Regions from separate parts of the Homo sapiens genome. Here region 2 is linked to region 1. The links come from fine-mapping of genetic effects on gene expression. Tissue or cell type: nasal epithelium. Region 1 holds a variant in brackets; the other region holds the start of a gene. All regions are shown on one strand. Distances are from middle to middle.

Region 1 (2,692 bases):
TCCTTATACTCTTATACACATGGAGATGTGTTCAATCGTTTTGATTTTTATATCCCACAAATAAGAGAATATGCGATATGCCTGGCTTATTTCACTTAACATAGTGATCTCCAGTTCCATCCGTGTTGCTGCAAGTGACAGTGTCCAATTCTAAAAAAGGTAACTATGCTTTAATTAACTTGATAATGACAATCATTTCACAATACATATGTATATCAAGTCATCAGGTTGTACACCTTAAATTTATATAATTTTGTTTATCAATTATACTTCAGTGAAGGAGGAAAAATTAAATTTAAGATACAATTTAAAAGATTTTTTAAGTAGCATCATTCAAAGAGAGAGACAGAGCCCTGGACTGGGAGTAAGGAAACTTGAATTCTAGTTCTGGCACTGTTACCAATACCACATCCAATCTTGGGTCATGTGTGTCACCAGACTGTGCTCCAGTTTTCTCATCCTTAAAATGAAGAGCTGAAACAATGCAATCTATAATGTCTCTTTCAAGACTGTAATGCTATGATTTCATAACTAAATGTCTAGATCAATCAGCTAGCCTGGTTAAGTAAATATTCCAGAGGCTGAAAACACCCTGGATGCAAACTGGAGGAAACTATTCCATGCAGTTCTAGTGCCGCCTGCTGGTCAATGGATTCCTTAAGACATTCCCTCCTTAAGAGATAGATATCTAAGCAAAGTGACAAATACTGTTGCAAAAACAACAGGTCACAATTTGGCACTCTCTGCCCAGTGAACAAGTAATACTTTTGTTGTATAGTCTGGTCACCAGTTTCTGCTGAAACAGTTAATTTGTGTGAAAAGGGACACGTGCTGGTGGCTGCCTGATTGGGTGTCCCTGGCAACTGTTTTTGTTTGTCTTTTTGGTTTTTTATATCACTACCCCAAGCCCAATTATTGTAGGGCTTTGCTCTAGTTTTGCTTGCCACTGAATGAGACACATTCAGTTCATTCAGTAAATTCAATCCCAAATAGCTATTGAGCATTTTACTAGATTCCCTAACTGTGCAAACAGATGTAGTGTGCTACGAAGTTACTAGCAGAGGTTTTGAGTCCAGTAGAAATAGATTCCAATCTTGGCCCACCTACTTAACATCCTGTGTGACTTCAGCCTTGGTTTCCTGACTTTAAATTTTCAATGATATCTTCTTTATCAATTGCCTGTAAGGATTTGTGGGGTGCCTGGCATGGAACCTGGTGTGTTGTAGGCACTAGAGAACTGTGAAGACACAACTCATGCCCTGAAAGAGCTTGCAATTAGGCAGGGATAGAGGCAGGTGCTTAGCTATGCAATGTAACAATGATTCAATGTAACAATATTTGCTGATCACTTCATGTACACCCAGGGCTGTAACAGACGATGGTAAGACCCTAAGAAAGAAAATGCCATGGAGGTTCAAAA[A/C]AGGGGCAGATCACTTGAGGTGGGGCAAAACAAGTGTCTTCATTGTAGAGAAGGCATCTGTCCAGGATTTTAATAAGTGATAAGAATTTAAATAGACAGATTAATATTGTCCTTGTCCTTAAAATCTCACTTCATACTTCATCTCCATAAAGTCATTCCCTACTCCTACCTTAGTCATCAACTTTTCCACTCCACCTTTCTGTTCCTATTATTCTCAATCCTCTATTGTGGAATTCTAATTCATTCTGCTTATTTTAAAGTTCATAATGCACTAAAAGCAACAATTAAACAAATATCAAAACCCCTCTCTCACACCACTCACAAAAATTAACTTGAAATGGATAATAGACTTAAATGTAAGACTGAAACCATAGAACTCCTAGAAAAATGCAAATCAAAACTACCTAACATGTAGGCTAGCACCTACATGTCTCCTGTTTTCTTTGAGAACCAAGCAGAAAATGAATTTGCACCATTTTTATTAGCTAACTTATTACAAGACTTACTAAGGCAGTAGGAGCCTAACTTGAATTGAGCACTTACTGAGTACTAGTGTTAAAATACAATCTCTTAAAAAGTAACTTGCAGTGTGCCTTTCATACTGGATCATAATCTCCCTAAAGCCAAGGAAAGCATTGGTCTTATTCATTTTTAAGGCTCAGCAACGCAATGCCTGCTAATAACAGCAACATCTTACATATGTACCTTCGGGCTGCAGTTCAAAAGCCTTAGATTCATGCATTCATTCAACAAACGCTGATGACAACAATTTTCTGGACACTGTGCTGGGCACTAGGGGTACAGATGCCGGATGTCTTCTATCAAGGACTCACAATCTATGAGCAGGAAGACAATCACAATTCCATGTGATTAATCCAAAAGAATAAAACAATTATTTATAAATAGGAGTAAAAAAAATAACCACTACTAGCTTTCCCTGAGCACCGAAGTGTGTGGCAGGCACAATACTGAGTGCCAGGTATATCCTTATTCCATATAATCCTCTCATGAACTCTAGTAAGTTAGGTGCTTCTTATCATGTCCATTTAACAGATGAGAAAGCTGAGGCTTACAGAGATTAATAACTTACCCAAAGTCAAATATCTTCTAAGTGGAGAGAAAAATCATTCAAATCCATGTCTGACTTCAGGAGTCTATGTTTCTAAATCCCTTCTTTGCCTCCCAAACCAATGAAAAGAGCCTACATGATGGGTCCTGCAATCCGTGGAGTAGAGTCTTGTATGTAACTAAATCAAGCCAAGTCTTTGATAG
Region 2 (2,692 bases), 26 kb after region 1:
ACCCCACATCTAGGATGGCAGCAAGTGAGGGGGCAAATAGAGTTCAACTCCATTATCATTTAGACCAATCTGCACATAAAGAAATAGCCATCAAGATTTAGATTCCAAATTTTCACTCATGCCATTGAAGGACGTTCAGTTGCCTCAAAATTCAGAAAACCAACACTTGCCTCTGTTGGACAAAGGAGGAGACAAAAGTGCAGAGAAGCCATTGAATCATTTAATAGTCTTCATAAATTATGAACCAAAGTTTCATATAGTCTGAAATGTAAGGAAGGAAGTCACTGACAACCATGGATAAAATCCAATTCCTTACAATAAAACAGCACTGAAATTTGCAAATGATCAACCAGATTGAGAAAGCCCTGATGGATATAATGGGCTAGAATGACCAATTACCTCAATGTACTTCCAGGAGAAGCAGACTCAAGTGTTTAGGTGTCATAATCATTAGTAACTTAGGCTGAGCAGGATGATTATATCTACAATAATACATTACACCAGCTCTTTTTCCCCAGGGGCATCAATATGCTAATGAGAAAACTAATGAACAAACTTCATTTAGGTTTAATGTCTCTAAGAATGAAATTTCACAGATTTCAAGTTTTCTTATGAACGGTTTAATAAAAATATATTTCCAAGGTACCCTTCCAAACTTTACTGAGGAGGCAGTCCCCAATCTGTAGGAAAACCATCATAAGACCCGGGAGACAAATGTAAAAATTTTTCCCACCTGCATTTTTAGAGAAGAAACTAACCAATTCTTTACAGCTCTCTCATTGCCCTAGAATTGAAGCAACTGCTTCTGGCAGGGCTTATGAGCAGCTCACCATGGACTGTCACATCCCATGGAGAAATTAATTGGTTTTCATCACTTTATTTCAAAGTTTCTGCTTAATCCCAAACTAGAGATTGTATCTTTTATAAAGCAAATGGCTTAGAGTTTACTCCTTTGTAATGAAGTAATAATCAATTAAGATTGTGAACATTTAATACCTTTGTTTTATTATTTAATTTACTTTTAACAATTTAAGAAAATTGGAGATTCTGCCAAATATTCTACCCTCCCATGTTAGGTGGGGCTGGTACCCTGACTGTCAGGAGGCAAGGTCTGTGAACCTCGTGCCAAATAGCTACGTGAGCAAATAGTGAGATAAACAAGCCATTTGTGGAGACAGAGGTGGAGCTGGGCTTGGTTAGGAATGAATCAGGCCATCCCACAGAGTGGGTGTCTCCTTCCCAAGTTGCTTTCCAGGGCACAATTAAAACCCCTATAAAAGGCCCAGCTCCCAGTTACCCAGTACACTTGCCTGTGGTGTCAGCAAGCACTGTCGACTTCTTCCTCTGGTGAAGTGGGTAAGTCCCATTCTGTGGGATCGTGGTCTTCTTTATGATTCTCCATTTTTATAGCTATTTCAGATGTTGGGATATGGGGGGAGGTTCCATGTGCCAGAAGGTATCAGTATTTTGCAGGGATAAATAAACTATCACTAACTCTATCCCATCTTCTTATGGTTGGAGCCATCACTTGAACTGAAGCATGACCCTTCTCCTTGGGCTCTGAACTCTATACTTCTGCACATCAAGGATGATCATGTGTGGCTCTGATAGGGTTCATCTTCCTAAAAACTGCTATCTCAAAAGTTTGCCAGCCTTCTGTTCTCTTTTACATTGGTTCTACCTAATATGGGCCATCTTCATACAGTCACAGCATTTAAGGTACTGGAGTTGAGAAGTACATAAAGAAGTCAGCTAGATGAACGACTACACTTATCCCACCAGCAAAGCCATTCCATGTATTCTTATAACATTGATCTACTGCTGGCTAATGTTTTATAAAAAGCCAAGATTCCAATGATGCATTTGGGTTTAACAAAACCAATATCATTCACAGTTTTCTGGATTCCGTTTGGTTTAGAAAGGACCTCTCAGAAGCTTTCAATACTTCAATATCCGAATATCTTACTATATCTGAGTTGAGGCAGGTAATATACAGTCTCTGTTTTCTGCATTTGTGTATCTGAATGTTACAATGCCATCTTTTGACTAGGAAGAAGTACTATTTAATCTTAGAATTGCTGACTTACAAATTATATTCTATAAGAGTTCCTAAATCCTTTATGGACTGTAATGTTGAGGAATCATTCATATTCCCTTTTCATTGTTCTATTTTCTACCAACTGTTTTGCTGACATGGCCTCTATCCACTTTAAGATACTCTCAAGTCTTCCTTCACCTTTTGGCTTTTACCTGTCCTCTTCGCTCAACTTTAAAGGAAGGTGTGTAGACATATATAAAATTTTAATTTCTGCACTCTTCTCTTAATTTTCTACTCTGAAATACGGTGGAGAGCTGGAAGAAAGACAGAAGAAAAGGGCATAGATAATCCACATTGGGTGGACAATCAAAAGCTGACAACAGGATAGTCTGAAGATGATTCCCTGGCTTGGAATTTCTCAGGATCGCTCTTTCTCTTTCTGATACAATATTCAAATATTAAAGTGCTCTGAAAGTCCAGGTTGAAATTACCGCTATAAATTCAAATTATTTAGGGATCTGCCTGAAATAGTGTGAATGAAGCCTTCCCAAAAGCAGAAACGGGATTTTGATTCTGGATCTTATTTTATTGTTCTAGGTTTACTTGAACTTGAAGGAAAGAAAAAAAAATGTCTCCACTTCTGAGAAGCATCTG

Evidence for each region. PIP is the estimated chance that this variant, and not a neighbour inherited with it, causes the effect.
Region 2: it holds the start of TCHH, and the variant in region 1 is the best candidate, but not a certain one, in a credible set for the expression of TCHH in nasal epithelium (TOPMed, PIP 0.86).

The regions. Positions count from the first base shown.
Region 1 is chr1:152,140,107-152,142,798 of GRCh38, reverse strand. No RefSeq gene overlaps it. Among named protein-coding and RNA genes, the nearest start is that of RPTN, 18 kb to the left of the region's middle. The variant A/C (reference allele first, on the strand shown) is at 1,421.
Region 2 is chr1:152,114,055-152,116,746 of GRCh38, reverse strand. TCHH (trichohyalin) reads left to right here and starts at 1,303. Exons shown (of 3, transcript NM_007113.4): 1 at 1,303-1,356; 2 at 2,636-2,692. The coding sequence starts at 2,667.